Regions from separate parts of the Homo sapiens genome. Here region 2 is linked to region 1. Evidence: fine-mapped expression QTL. Tissue or cell type: monocytes. Region 1 holds a variant in brackets; the other region holds the start of a gene. All regions are shown on one strand. Distances are between the middles of the regions.

The links. PIP is the estimated chance that this variant, and not a neighbour inherited with it, causes the effect.
Region 2: TGFBR2 starts here. The variant in region 1 is fine-mapped to the expression of TGFBR2 in monocytes (TOPMed, PIP above 0.99).

The regions. Positions count from the first base shown.
Region 1 is chr3:30,691,774-30,700,001 of GRCh38, forward strand. It overlaps TGFBR2 (transforming growth factor beta receptor 2), which reads left to right. Exons shown (of 7, transcript NM_003242.6): 7 at 1-2,369. Among named protein-coding and RNA genes, the nearest start is that of TGFBR2, 89 kb to the left of the region's middle. The variant T/C (reference allele first, on the strand shown) is at 3,308.
Region 2 is chr3:30,602,744-30,610,926 of GRCh38, forward strand. It overlaps TGFBR2 (transforming growth factor beta receptor 2), which reads left to right and starts at 3,858. Exons shown (of 7, transcript NM_003242.6): 1 at 3,858-4,234. The coding sequence starts at 4,141. LOC105377015 (translation initiation factor IF-2-like) reads right to left here and starts at 4,181. Exons shown (of 2, transcript XM_047449400.1): 1 at 3,403-4,181; 2 at 1,656-2,815. The coding sequence starts at 4,181. The coding sequence ends at 3,741. RefSeq lists a silencer at 3,932-4,031.

The sequences.
Region 1 (8,228 bases):
GAGCATTCTATGCCTTTGACATTGTCATAGGATAAGCTGTGTTAGCACTTCCTCAGGAAATGAGATTGATTTTTACAATAGCCAATAACATTTGCACTTTATTAATGCCTGTATATAAATATGAATAGCTATGTTTTATATATATATATATATATCTATATATGTCTATAGCTCTATATATATAGCCATACCTTGAAAAGAGACAAGGAAAAACATCAAATATTCCCAGGAAATTGGTTTTATTGGAGAACTCCAGAACCAAGCAGAGAAGGAAGGGACCCATGACAGCATTAGCATTTGACAATCACACATGCAGTGGTTCTCTGACTGTAAAACAGTGAACTTTGCATGAGGAAAGAGGCTCCATGTCTCACAGCCAGCTATGACCACATTGCACTTGCTTTTGCAAAATAATCATTCCCTGCCTAGCACTTCTCTTCTGGCCATGGAACTAAGTACAGTGGCACTGTTTGAGGACCAGTGTTCCCGGGGTTCCTGTGTGCCCTTATTTCTCCTGGACTTTTCATTTAAGCTCCAAGCCCCAAATCTGGGGGGCTAGTTTAGAAACTCTCCCTCAACCTAGTTTAGAAACTCTACCCCATCTTTAATACCTTGAATGTTTTGAACCCCACTTTTTACCTTCATGGGTTGCAGAAAAATCAGAACAGATGTCCCCATCCATGCGATTGCCCCACCATCTACTAATGAAAAATTGTTCTTTTTTTCATCTTTCCCCTGCACTTATGTTACTATTCTCTGCTCCCAGCCTTCATCCTTTTCTAAAAAGGAGCAAATTCTCACTCTAGGCTTTATCGTGTTTACTTTTTCATTACACTTGACTTGATTTTCTAGTTTTCTATACAAACACCAATGGGTTCCATCTTTCTGGGCTCCTGATTGCTCAAGCACAGTTTGGCCTGATGAAGAGGATTTCAACTACACAATACTATCATTGTCAGGACTATGACCTCAGGCACTCTAAACATATGTTTTGTTTGGTCAGCACAGCGTTTCAAAAAGTGAAGCCACTTTATAAATATTTGGAGATTTTGCAGGAAAATCTGGATCCCCAGGTAAGGATAGCAGATGGTTTTCAGTTATCTCCAGTCCACGTTCACAAAATGTGAAGGTGTGGAGACACTTACAAAGCTGCCTCACTTCTCACTGTAAACATTAGCTCTTTCCACTGCCTACCTGGACCCCAGTCTAGGAATTAAATCTGCACCTAACCAAGGTCCCTTGTAAGAAATGTCCATTCAAGCAGTCATTCTCTGGGTATATAATATGATTTTGACTACCTTATCTGGTGTTAAGATTTGAAGTTGGCCTTTTATTGGACTAAAGGGGAACTCCTTTAAGGGTCTCAGTTAGCCCAAGTTTCTTTTGCTTATATGTTAATAGTTTTACCCTCTGCATTGGAGAGAGGAGTGCTTTACTCCAAGAAGCTTTCCTCATGGTTACCGTTCTCTCCATCATGCCAGCCTTCTCAACCTTTGCAGAAATTACTAGAGAGGATTTGAATGTGGGACACAAAGGTCCCATTTGCAGTTAGAAAATTTGTGTCCACAAGGACAAGAACAAAGTATGAGCTTTAAAACTCCATAGGAAACTTGTTAATCAACAAAGAAGTGTTAATGCTGCAAGTAATCTCTTTTTTAAAACTTTTTGAAGCTACTTATTTTCAGCCAAATAGGAATATTAGAGAGGGACTGGTAGTGAGAATATCAGCTCTGTTTGGATGGTGGAAGGTCTCATTTTATTGAGATTTTTAAGATACATGCAAAGGTTTGGAAATAGAACCTCTAGGCACCCTCCTCAGTGTGGGTGGGCTGAGAGTTAAAGACAGTGTGGCTGCAGTAGCATAGAGGCGCCTAGAAATTCCACTTGCACCGTAGGGCATGCTGATACCATCCCAATAGCTGTTGCCCATTGACCTCTAGTGGTGAGTTTCTAGAATACTGGTCCATTCATGAGATATTCAAGATTCAAGAGTATTCTCACTTCTGGGTTATCAGCATAAACTGGAATGTAGTGTCAGAGGATACTGTGGCTTGTTTTGTTTATGTTTTTTTTTCTTATTCAAGAAAAAAGACCAAGGAATAACATTCTGTAGTTCCTAAAAATACTGACTTTTTTCACTACTATACATAAAGGGAAAGTTTTATTCTTTTATGGAACACTTCAGCTGTACTCATGTATTAAAATAGGAATGTGAATGCTATATACTCTTTTTATATCAAAAGTCTCAAGCACTTATTTTTATTCTATGCATTGTTTGTCTTTTACATAAATAAAATGTTTATTAGATTGAATAAAGCAAAATACTCAGGTGAGCATCCTGCCTCCTGTTCCCATTCCTAGTAGCTAAATCCATTTGCCTCATTTGGTTATTTTGCAATTTATGCAGAAAACGTCACCAAGTAAATAATCTCCAACTTTTTCATACTGTCTTTCTCAACTGACAGTCTCACAGTCCTTAAAAAAAAAAAAAAAAAAAAAAAAAAGTCACAGAAGCTCAGTAATATGAGATGAAGCAGATGCTGCTCATGGCCTGCCTGCCATGCTGGCGTCCTGGCATGATGTCCCTCTGAATGCCCAGAAGACCTCTTCCCACAGTCTCAGGAGCTGCCTCTATCCACATGGCTGTTTCTTGCAGGGATTTTCACAGCCAGTGTTTCTACCGCTTCTTCTATTTTCTCTATTCCTCATACTAGCAAGCTGTTGGCTCTCTTCTTGACTCTTGTCATATTCCATGCTTCCCTTTTCTACCCAGATACCACATCCATTTGGTGCTTTTAATTGATTTACATGAATGGTGAGATGAATATGCCTTAGGAAATTGTCTCCTGGTCATTTCTTGTGACAAAGTGCACGAGATTTTCTGCCTGAACTTCATGCTACCTGTTTTGGAATCTGAGAGATTCTGTAGCTTCTTCTTAGTTATCGACTGGGTTCTAAATAGTTAATGTCATAGTGCCTGCACCAGGGTATTTCAACCTTAGCACTGCTGACTTATTTTTGCATTGGATAATTGTGTGTTGGGAGGGAGGGAAGCCGTCCTGTGCACTGTGGGATGTTTAGCAGTATCCCTCGCCTCCACCCACTAGATGCCAGTAGCACCCACCCCACAGCTGTGACAACCAAAAATTTCTCCAGACATTGCCAAATGTCCCCTGAAAGACAAAGTTCCTCTCAGTGGAGAATCACTGAGCTAGATGATGTGGTCCTACTGTGGGCCTTAGTTATAGTCTTGTCTTTATTAGTAGCAATTTTAGTGGTTACTAACTGTAGAGGTTACCTGCTCCTC[T/C]ATTTGCCAGCTTTGTGATCTGGGCAAATTACTTAACCTCTCCATGCCTCAGTTTCATCATGTGTAAAATGAGATTTTACAAGCCTCATCCTATACAAGATAAAATTGTGGTAAGAAGACACATTAGGCTTTTGAAGATGGGTCTTGAACTTTTTGGAAAGCCTTCACTACATGCTGGCCAGTGTTAAGTTGGTTTAGTATGCCAAGGACTGCTTAGGCAAAGAAGCAGATTTTTAGGTACAAACCTAGAGAGCATTTACAACAGAGGAAAATGGGTACAGTCCCCAGGTCTGCAGGACAGGAAACGTGGGTCCTGTGTGAACACATAATCGGGGGAGAGCGCTCATTCACTGAGTACTCGCTATGCCATCGGATTGAATCCTCCACTAGCTCGGTGAGGTACATACTATGCCCATTTAACAGATGAGGAAACAGATGGTCAGAGAGCTCAGATAAGAAGCCCAGGGTCTCACCATGTAGAATCTGGATGCAGGGCCAAGTTGTCTTGGAACTGGAATTTGGAACACCTGACATGCTTGGTTCTTTATTTCCTGCTGTTTCCTGAGGGAACTGACCTGCCCAAGCAGGACCAAAAGGCTACCCCATGAAGAAAAGCTCTGCTACTGGATCATTGTTCTCATCTCTCTCTGGGTCTCTGCTCAGTGGAGGCAGAAAAGGTGCTTTTCCATTTCTATTGCCTGACTTCCTCTCCATTCACATGGTAAGTGTTGTCTACATGCTTGCTGAGAGAACAACTGGAAGATGAGTGAATGTGTGTAGACTGTGTTTCCTAATGTGTGAAATGTGTACTGGTATCTGAGATGATTTAAGATTGTGCCACCTTTATAAAAATAGATCCACCTTTATTTTAGTGGATCATTAACATACATTAGAAAAAAATCATTAACACAGCCTGGGCTTTCACAAATAATATTGCTTGAAATATGGCTGAGTTTAAAAACTTGAATTGATTATTAAAATACATTAAGTAGACGACACTCATGCATGACAACTACAGGAGGTGTTAATAGGAATAATTGAAGTTAGGGAGCTCTACCCAAGGAGGCAAATTCATATTAATTCCTAACATTTATTGAGTACTTGGTAAGTGCCAAACACTATTCTCTGTTTTACCTTATCTGCTTAAATCCTCTCAACAACCCTGCGAAGTATCTTACCTCCATCTTATAGAGGAGGAAACTGAGGCAGAGAGCAAGGTCTAGCTAAGGGTCGCAATCATTAGCATGAGAATTTGAACTGAAGCAGTTGGACTCCAGGGATCAAACCCCCACCTTGAACACAAGATAAAGCTGGAGTTAGGGGGTAACAACGTGGAGCCTCTGGAGAGCTCAAGGGTTTTTGATTCAACAGTCCAAAATGAGGAGGCAGATGCAGTTAGCACTGGAGAGGAGGGAGTTACCCATGAGGGAACCCAGGGAGGAAAAGTTATTCCTCAAATGCACATGGGCTCCGGGCTGCAGCCCAAGAGCTTCAGCCAAAACAGGAGCCAAGGTCTTCTAACCCCTCTCCCTTCTTCCACGCTTTGTTTTGCTGGGGTTATTTTAGTTCTTGCTACTGCAAGGTCAGGAACATTCCCAACTGGCAATTGGTCTCCAAGTGCCCTCAGCATGGACTCAGTCCCTTGCACCAGTCAGCATCCTTTGAATGCAGTCTATATTTGTGCCCAGGAGTTTCTATTTGTGGTGGCTGTTTTTGTTTTAAGCTCTCTATGCAAATGACACACTAATGGTCTGGTCCTAAGGGAAATTCTGTCTTCAGGTGACAGAGAACTTTTCATTTAAACAAGTGTATCTATCCTTTTTCACTAAAGCCACTACAGTCGGCATCTGCTCATTTTGTTCATTTTCCTCCTGAAATAGGTTAGCTAATCATTGCTTATCACATTTCCAACTAGTTTCTTTTTTTTTACTTGAATAACTATAGCTCCACCCTCTATGGGTTTGGGGCCATGCCTTTCAGGCCTACTTTGCAAACTGTGCTGATAAAAGACAAGATTGTGAACTTGCCCACATTACATGGGCTGCCAATCAGCCTCACATGGTGTAATTTAATTCTAATACGCCTCCTGATCTTTGGTGCATTTAAAAATAACTTGTTAATAGTCTTCCTATTCTAATTAAGCTAAAATTGCACACACTGTGAAATGCTTGCTCTCTTGCTCTCTCATGCTCTCTCTCTCTCTCTACACACACACACACACACACACACACACACACACACACAATTGATCCTTAAAAATCATTTCTGTAAACTGCCTGTGTAGCACAGTGCTTCTGAAATTCTCCTGTGTCTTCCCCTGACCTATGCCCACAATGATAGACAATAGAATAAAATAACTGTGGCCCTGGTACCCTAGGTCCATTAAAATATTCATAATAAATTGTCTAAACATTGATAACAAAGTGGTTAAAATTGGAACCTCTAGAGCCAAATCTCCTGGGTTCAAATCCCAGCTCTGCCACTAACTGTAACTTTGTGTAAGTCTTTTAACTGTTTTTATTTCCTGGTTTCTTAATGTGTAGAAGGAGGATAATGATGAGATCTACTTGGGAAAGTTGTAAGAGTTAAATGAAATACTGGTTTTTTAAATGGTTAGAACAGAGACTGATGCACATAAGTATTCATTATTATAATTCAGTTTTTGCATTCTTTAAAGTGAAGCTGTGTTGTTGCAGTATTTTAAGGATATATTGTTCCCCAAATTTTTGGGTAAAATTGACTGTTAAGGAAGATGAGTCATGTTTAAACTGTAATTGTGAGTAGACCACCCTTTATCCTTGAAGGGCTTTCTCAACCAGGTGAATGGCATGGCTGTGGTGGGAAATACAGGGCCCTGTGAGACAGGAAATCTAGGGGGTTGTCTAGCTCCATTACCATCCTCTTCTTTTATGGATTCAGTGTCTTGTTCTTTTGTTCCATGTGAGAATCATCCCTGCCCTGCCTACGTTATAAAGCTGGAGAAAAATGAAATAAGTAAAAACACATGGAAAACGTACTAAAATATTAATGCAAGGATGCAAGGTATAATCTTTGCTGGAACATTAGTTCCTCATTTATTAGTAACATTACAGGCATTTGAAATTATGTACTTTATATGGGACCTATATTTTAAATATATGCTAATCATCCTAGAAGCCCTACAAGGTAGGTGTTACTTTTTTCCATTTTACCATTAAGGAAATTATCCAGGTTTACACAACTTGAACCCAGGTCTCTGTCAGTAAAAAACTGTCTACTCTTCCAAACCATTTTATCTATCCATATTTATTTCCTCCATCAAACATTAGTTGAATGCAATGTGGTGTATCACCCAAGGTCGGCTGGCATCTTGAAAACAATAACTATGTGTTACTCAGCATCTTAGCACCTAGCAAAGAGTGGAGAATATAACAGTCTTTCAATTAAGTTTTGTCGAAGAAAGAAATGAAGGCTCTTGGTCTTTAGAAATTCACAAATCAGCTGAGGAGACAGACATACTAACCAACAGCATATGATCAGCATGTTCTAATTGGTACTGTCTCTGGAATAAAACAGCTGGCAGCAAAAAATGTCTGACTTTTGCAGAGAAACTCCTAATATGAGTTTGACTGCTGTCCCACATCTACCTATGTGGTCGTAGTGCTGTAGTCACTGTTGTTACCCTAAGAGGACAGCCTTGTTCCTCCAGGTCTCTTACAACTCTCTTTTAAGGAGCTCGTATTAGATCCCTAGAGCTGCTGTAATGCATTGCCCAAATCTTGTGACTTAAACCAACAGAAATTTATTATCTCATAGTTCTGGAGGCTAGAAGCCTGAAATGAAGGTGTCTGCAGGCTTCACTCTCTCTGAAATTTTTATGAGAACATTTTTCATGTGATTTAGAGCCCACCTGGGTAATCCAGGATGATATCATCTCAAGATTCCTAACTTAATTACACCTGTAAAATCCATTTTTCCAAATAAGGTCATATTCACAAGTTCTGAAGACTAAGGCATGGACAGATCTCATTGGAAACCATCATTCAACCCACTGCAAAGCTTTAGCCAATTCCCAGCTATGAATTCTTCCAAGATGAAAGGATACCAAGCTCAAGACTCTCCCTTGTTCATTTGAGGCCTTCCCAAAGATGACTGACATTTTCACAAATTTTATTTGGTTTCATTTCCTATCTTAACGAAAACAATGATAATTTCCTATCTTAATGAAAAAAATGATAATGTTTATACTGTATGATAATTAAAACATCATGTAAAGATTACTCTTTATCTAAATGTTTGCACATACTCTTTGAACATCCATCATTTTTCCAGCAGTTATGATTTTTTCTTCCCAGGAATATGGGAATGAAGTGAAATTGACAACTTTTCCCCCACGCATTGTATCCTCTTTTAATGCCACCCCCTGTGTTTAACAGCCTCTGACACAATGTAGGAGCAATCCATGGTACTCAAAGAATATTATGGAATTTAACAACAAGTATATATATTTGTCTTGATCCAGTGTCTTATCTGATTACCTTGGGCCACAGGAATACCCTAGGTGAGAAGGGAAAGTTGGGTTCTAGCCCAAGTCCTGTTACTAAGTCTCTTAGCTCCATGACCCTTGGATATTCTAGTTATTATTACTACAAAACTTAGCGGCTTAAAGTAATCTTTTTATTTTACATAATTTTATGGGTCAGAAATTTGGGAAAGGCTTAGGCTGGAAAGTTTTCACTTGGAGTTTCTTCTACCATTGCAGTCATATGTCAACTGGGACTTAAATCATCTGATAGCTCAGCTAGGCTAGATATCCAAGATGCCTCACTCTGGTGGTTAGTACCAGTAGTTGACTGGGATCTCAGTTGGGGCTGTCATCTAGGACAACGGCACATGGCTTTTCCAAGTGGCAGTGTTAAGACAATACTTTTAATATGACATC
Region 2 (8,183 bases), 89 kb before region 1:
AATTCTAAAAAGCAAATAAATAACAATAATGTACTCCATGTTAGAATGGGGCAAACATTTTTTTTTAAAAAAAGGCTAAATAAACGAAATGTTCCCTGGGTTATCCCTGGGAAAGGAGTGATCACAGTAGGTGAAGCATCACAAAATATTTCCTGGAGGAGGTAGCATCATGGATGACCCACAAAGGGTGGATGACCCTCACAAATTAACTACAGTCTCAGTGCTTATTGGTTTGCTTCACAATAAAAGGAAAATTGGTCAAGAGATAAGAGCTGAGAATGAGGCTGGTTAATTTATAAGGAGAGGAATCTCCCTGTTAACTGCTCTAGCTGACAGTAACCTCAACAGCTGCATGTCACAAAGCTCAGGGGAGTAGGAAGTTCTTCTCTCATCACAACTGAGAAACCCAACGTTTAAATAAACCACAATTTGATTCAGTTCAATTGTGTGTGTTTGTGTGTGCGTGCAGAGTTTAAAAAGCTGGTAAAATAGATTGTCAGCTTTTAAAATTTCTGTTCAAGTTGATATTTATTGTTTTTCAACTCATTAAGGGCTTAAACGTTACCTTCCTTGTTTTTTAAACCCTGAGTCGGGCTATTATTTTTTTGTTCCCATTTGCAAATGGCCCAGTTTTTTACATGTATATATTAACTGCTTATGTGAATACACAAAATATTATACTAAGCCAAATATACAACTATGTGTGAAAATGATGTCTTGATTAAGGGTATCAGACATCCCTTTCAACAAGAATTTCAAAAGGAAGGGCATCATGACAATTTTTTTTTCTTTTTCTTTTATTTATTTTTTGTTTTTGAGACAGGGTCTCATTCTGTCTTCTAGGCTGAAGTGCAGTGGCACAATCATGGCTCACTGCAGCGTTCGTCTCCTGGGCTCAAGTGATTCTCCCACCTCAGCCTCCTGAGTAGTTGGCACTATAGATACATGCCAACATGCCTGGCTTTTTTTTTTTTTTTTTTTTTTTTAGTAAAGATGAAATCTCACTATGTTGCTTAGGCTGGTCTCGAACTCCTGGGCTCAAGTAATCCTCCCATCTAGACCTCCCAAAGTGCTGGGATTACAGGTGTGGACCACTGCACTCAGCCTGATGAATTTTTAAAATTATCAAATTGCAATATGCATGAGTTTACACATCTATTATTTTTATTATGATGATTTTCAAAAGGCTAGCTTGCACTTGGCAATGCTGAATTCTGATTCTTCTCAATTTCACAGGAGACTGGAGATTAAATCAGAAATGTTAAGGGCAAACAAAATTAAAATCAACATTAATGATGTATCATGGCAAAGACCACCAGTTAAACATTCCACCATAGATTTAAATATCTAGCCTCCAACAATGTAAAACATCTTTGTGATAATTAAGGAAAACAAAGCTTTTGGAATCTATTGGACATTTATTTGCCACATTGTGTTTTCAGGAGAAAGAAAGTACATGTTTGCTATCTGGAGGAACTTGGGCAAATGTAGGAAAAAAAAAAGAAGAAGAAAGAAACCCACATACTTCTCCATTCTTAAGAAAAGGAAGTAGTGGTGACATCATTCTCGGCTAAAATGTAGTCTGTTTATATCTCAAATATTCGGTAACAATGTTTTCTCCAGAGTTATGAAGCAACTAGAACAATCAAATACAATTTTCTTCTAAATCTTTATTGCCTGATTCATTCATTCATCCAACAAATATTTATTAAACATCGATTATGTGTTTGATGCTTAGGGACACAATAGTAAGTGGAGGGAAAGATACATAATACCTGCCCTCAAGAAATTTGGAGTTGAGTGGAGGATAGAAATATAAATTAAAGAATGACACAAATAATTATAAAGTTACAGCTGTTAAAAGAAAAGCATATGGTGCCAAGAGAACGTGTAATACAAGATCTACTCATGGAGGTGAGGGAAAGCTTGCCCATCAAAGAAGTTATGATTCAATCCACGAAGACCAGGAGTTGGCTGGGTGAAGAAAAAAAGGTCAGAGGAAGGAAGTCCACACTGGGGAAGGCTCTAAGCATAAAGGGTAGGAGGATTACAGAGGCATATTCACGAAATTTGGAGAAGGCTTTCAGTAAGCAAGGAGAAGCCAAATGAAAGTTTACGGGAGAGTTGGAGGCTTGAAGACACGTTCAAGGATCTGGTTTTTATCTTCTCTTTATCTCAAGAGCAGTGGGAAGCCATTAAATGATTTTAATCAGAGGGTTGGTATAACTAGTTTTGTATTTTGAAAAGCTGAATTCAGCTCTCGTTTGAGAAACTGAGTGAAAGAGCCCAGAACGGCCGTGGCTGAGGGTGACTCGTGGGAGACTCCTACACAAGCCATGGCAGTGGCATGGGCTGGTGGCAGAAGAGGGAATAGGGAGAAGATTTGGAACTCAATCTTCCTCCATTGACAAAGTCACTCCAGCTTTGGCAAGGCAATTAATTGGTGGGAAAGAAGATGCCTAGCCCTCCTGATTTCACTGCACTTTCTGCATCTTCAACATGAGTACTGGGAAGTGGCAAAACATCCAGAGGCAGCTTGGGTGCTAGGTGGAGCATGAGTTAAAATTCCAGGATGAAGCAAATGAACACTTAGAATGACAGGAAAGATTTGGGAGTTGGGTTTGGGGGAGGGCTATTTACCTTTATTCCCTGGAGACCCTGGCACAAACCCTTGCCTCTGCAATCTTCCTCTCAGGTAAAGGAATTCATTAAATGAATTGCTAGAAGATCTACTGACCAGAGGGCTGTACAGAATCATATCTTTGAGAGTGGGAAGTAGGTTGATCACATAGTTTATTATCCAATCAGGACATATCTGAAAGAGAAAGGGGGTTCTATTAATATTTAAACTACAAAACATGTACACCAGGAATGTCTTGGGCAAATCTGGTTGCCCTAGCAAGAAAGGAAATTTGAAAGTTTATACTGTTCTGCTCCCATGTTACCCCGTTTGCACATGAGAGGGTAAGTATTCTCTTTCTTCACCTGCATTAAGGGAATAAAAGCACAAGCATTCAGGTGACTCCCAACCCACTTTTAATTTTACAGTTTCTGCTATACTCTATACATTCTGAAAATTACATTTCCCACCACTATCACTTCGTGATAGGTGATCATTTACAATTACTCACTGACTCAGTCCCGGGAAGAGGCGGTGCAAAATGGGACGCTCTATCCAGGTGCTCATTAGAAATGCAGAATCTCTGCCTGCCTCCTAGACCTACTGAATTAGAATCTGCATTTTTAAATAAGATTTCCAGGTGATCAATATGTACATTAAAACTTGAGAAAAACCTCTAGACTTCGACCTAAAGAAAAACATTTTACAACTTGACAGTGTATGCACATACATACATGCATATAGACACAACTGAAGCACAAATTTAATGAAGTAGAATTTACCGTTACTATTTTATTTGGGAAAGAAATGTGCTCGCGACTCAATAGATTGGAGTATTCACTCCTGGATCTCAACTTGCAATTTGAAAACGCATCTCTAAAGCACCTAGGAGCAATCTGAAGAAAGCTGAGGGGAGGCGGCAGATGTTCTGATCTACTAGGGAAAACGTGGACGTTTTCTGTTGTTACTTTGTGAACTGTGTGCACTTAGTCATTCTTGAGTAAATACTTGGAGCGAGGAACTCCTGAGTGGTGTGGGAGGGCGGTGAGGGGCAGCTGAAAGTCGGCCAAAGCTCTCGGAGGGGCTGGTCTAGGAAACATGATTGGCAGCTACGAGAGAGCTAGGGGCTGGACGTCGAGGAGAGGGAGAAGGCTCTCGGGCGGAGAGAGGTCCTGCCCAGCTGTTGGCGAGGAGTTTCCTGTTTCCCCCGCAGCGCTGAGTTGAAGTTGAGTGAGTCACTCGCGCGCACGGAGCGACGACACCCCCGCGCGTGCACCCGCTCGGGACAGGAGCCGGACTCCTGTGCAGCTTCCCTCGGCCGCCGGGGGCCTCCCCGCGCCTCGCCGGCCTCCAGGCCCCCTCCTGGCTGGCGAGCGGGCGCCACATCTGGCCCGCACATCTGCGCTGCCGGCCCGGCGCGGGGTCCGGAGAGGGCGCGGCGCGGAGGCGCAGCCAGGGGTCCGGGAAGGCGCCGTCCGCTGCGCTGGGGGCTCGGTCTATGACGAGCAGCGGGGTCTGCCATGGGTCGGGGGCTGCTCAGGGGCCTGTGGCCGCTGCACATCGTCCTGTGGACGCGTATCGCCAGCACGATCCCACCGCACGTTCAGAAGTCGGGTGAGTGGTCCCCAGCCCGGGCTCGGCGGGGCGCCGGGGGTCTTCCTGGGGTCCCCGCCTCTCCGCTGCGCTTGACAGTCGGGCCCGGCAACCCGGCCCCCGGGCGGAAACGAGGAAAGTTTCCCCCGCGACACTCACGCAGCCCGACTCCCGTAGCTGCAGGGATTGTGAGTTTTTCTTGAAAAAGAGAAGGAAAGTTCAGTTGCAAGGGGCGCGGGGCACGTTTGGTCCCCTTTGTGCGAGCAGGAAAGGCGTTGTGTTGGCCGCGTTCGAGGCGAGCCCCCACCCCCGGAAAGGGAAGTTTGAGAAGTTGGTTATCTGAAGGCGGCCGGGGAGCAGCGGCCCGGAGCGGCAGCCTGAGCTGCCAAAGCAGCCAGCGCACCTGGGCCACTCCGCCCATGGCGATGCCGCGTGCCCACCCAGCTCTTTCTGAGCCACCCGTTCAAAAGGCCAGCTCCTCAGTCCTTAGCTCCTGGAGACGGCCACGCTTTCCCTCAGGCCGGCTTCTTGGCCCGGAGTTTTTGGAAACAAGTTTCAAGAAAATAATCGATTTCCAAAAGAAAGTTAGCTGGCTCCACTGACGCCTTGGCATGGATGGATAGGGAGTGGAGATGCTCAGGTGAAACCGAGAATCCCTCACTGAATGCCTACTGGGTGCTAGAGGCTGTAGATTTTGCCTGGAACAAGATAGTCCTGTCTTCAGGGAGTTGATGGTTCTATGCAATTATCGTTTGTTGGAAACCGAAGGGTTAAAATCCTAACTAGGCTACCCACCTGATCGCTGTCTCTGAAGGTTTTTAAGGAAAAAATAAAAATAAAAAAATATATATATATATTATATATATATAAATATATATATAATTATATATATAAATATATATAATATTAATATATATATGCATGCAGGAATGGGGGTTCTTAACTATTTGTTATGGAAAGTGTAAAACCTCTGAGACTTCAAAAGTTAGATTTTTTTTTTTTGGAGACGGAGTCTCGCTCTGTCACCAGGCTGGAGTGCAGTGGCGCAATCTCGGCTCACTGCAACTTTGCCTCTGGGTTCAAGCGATTCTCCTGCCTTAGCCTCCCGAGTAGCTGGGATTACAGGCGCGTGCCACCACGCCCAGCTAATTTTTGTATTTTTAGTAGAGACGGGGTTTCACCATATTGGCCAGGGTGGTCTCGATCTCTTGACCTCGTGATCCGCCCACCTTGGCCTCCCAAAGTGCTGGGATTACAGGCGTGAGCCACCGCGCCCGGCCAAAAGTTAGACTTTTTGCAGCTATGATCCAAATAACAGTATCTGCAGCTGTGGTCTGGGTAACCGAGTATTTGGGCAAGTCATAGAGCTTTTTCTGGGCCTTAGTTTCCTCATCTGTAAAATGGCCAGCTTGAATCTGGGTAATTTTACATCATCTTCATGTTTAACATCTTACGTATCGTGCCCCTCCCCTCCTTTCCCCTGGCTCTTCTGGTGACTTGGAGATGACCCATGTAGACTTTGGATGAAATGTAGAGGAGTTGACAGTCCACATCACCCGGAGGCACTCATTTTATTTATCCAGGGACATGGGCAGATTTACCTTTAGGTTTGTCTAGAAAAAATGCGCATCACGGTCAGTTGTAAATTTTAGAGTGTTTGAAGTGGATTGGGAACTTTTTAAAAATTATGGCATACATTGAAGGTGGCATGGAGATGGAAGCTTTTAATCAAATTAGGAAGAGGCACTATTGCAAGCAAAAAGTCTTGACACACATTTGAGTCCTATGGTTTTAATAAAATCTTAGTGTTTCGTTCTTGGCGTTTTTCCTGCATTGCAGTACCAGAATGTTCAATTGTCTCTCATTTTCCTCCAGACTTTTAAAACCTAAGTGACATTTTGCTAATAAATATTTAAAATGGCACCCTTAATTTTCTGTGGATGTTAAAAATCATTACAACTTTTGTTCCAGATTATAAAAGAAGGAAATTAGCAGGCCCTGATGTTGTTAGTTAGGTTCTGTTTACAAGGATAAGGTTTATGATTTGCAAATTCCAGACCCAATAGTTCACGAGTCACTTTCATTTCATCAATATACACACTTTTAAACAATTAGCTTAAAAACGTGGTGGCTTTTTATTTGGGTATTTAGACAGTTTTACAAGGCCCACAGATTTCATATTTTTATAGAACTGAAGTTTCAAAATGGTTGAATTAATGAATCATTTTGAATTTGTATTCATTTGATTCAAATTAAATTTTCAAAGTTGGCCAATGGTTGAAGACAGATATATTGAAGACGAGAAACCTAATTCTACTTACATTTTAATTTTTCATGTAAGTAAATAGTTTCAGAATTTCTCTAACGTAATTGGTAAACTGAAAACATTTTTTCAAAATATCTTAATGCAAGATAATATATCAGGTAATGAGATTGTTTAATAAACAACAAGCTCCTTTTACGTCACCTAAAAAGGCCCAAAAATCTGTCTTCTGTTTAGTAGCTTCTGTACTTCTGTTTAGTAGTATGCAAAGGATTTAAATAAAAGAACAAATTTCACTAAGAAATAGAAAGTTTTTTTTTCTTCGTTTTTGACTTAATAGATTCACTCTTCCTAAATGATCAAAATTAAGAAATGACTCTTTTGGGGAAAACTGTAAAGTGCACAATAACTCTTCAGGTCTGAAAAATATGACTTTTCAGGTTCCTGGAAGTAGATAGATTCTTATTGAGGACAAAGAATTTGTAAAAGTGTCATAGTGATCAGGTTCTTCACATCACTTTAATAACCTGCTTATTTTGTCAGGGTAAGAGACTAGACATCATTAGGCCCCAAATCTGATCTTCAGTCTACTCGTGCTTTTTTTCCGCCTCATAAAAACACATTTCCACCTTTAGGCCACTCAACATCTTATTTTTAATGAGTTATGATTTATACAAAATACTAATCACATTTTGAACTCATTGCCTTCTTTTCAATGTAGCATTCCCTAATGATGACTGTTGTCTATGTAGTCAACATAACTACTACATGTTTTCTACTCAGTTATGAACATGACTTTTTAATTTTTTCAGTAAGGTTAGTTTTTAACTCTGGATCAATAAGGCACCTCTGATATCATTGCAAAAACTGGGCATTTTTTCTTCTACCTTTTCAACCATATTTATTGAGTATCTCTTGCCAGGCAGGATGCTCAGACCTGGGATACCATCTCAGATGAATAAGACAGACCTGGTCTTTGCCATTGAATTTAACAGCTGGGAGCATGTTATAAGTAAAGAAAAGGATACGTGTTTTAACTGTTTATATTTGAAAGCATTATGGAATACTGGTGTTTTATTTTCTACACCTCATTTTCAAAAGCCTCATTTTTTTTTGTTGTTGTATGCACTAGGAGGATGTGCATGTTGAATGTTTCCTTCTAGGTCCCATTGAATGTATTTTTGAATCAATTTGTTGTCTCTTTCCTATCCCTGCCTTGTCACGGAGCCCCAGTTGGGCAGCCTTTAATTGCATTCTCCATTCCATAGCCAGCATGATGGACCCAATGCGTTCATTTAGTGCTCTCTTTGAGGATAGGCTGGTGGTAGAAGAGTGTAGGGTATAAACTTTGGAATCAGGCCGTCCTGGGTTCCAGACCCACTTGCCATGTACTGGCTGTGTAGCCTGTTGTAGTTGCTTTACCTACTAGTCATCCCTGGTCTCATTTGTAAAATGAGGATTATGGAGTTATGGTGAGGATTAAATAAAATATTGTTTTAAAGTATTTAACATGGTGCCTGCAACATAGTAAATGCTCAATAAATATCAGCTTCTGTTATTACTATTAACTCCTTAATTGGGCTTACCAGGGGCCTCTGACCTGGTTCCCATTTGACTCTGCTGCTTCACATCCCACCACAGCCCACATTTTCCCAGTCTATTTGTGTCACTACACATACACACAATGTGAGCAATTTAGGCAGCTGT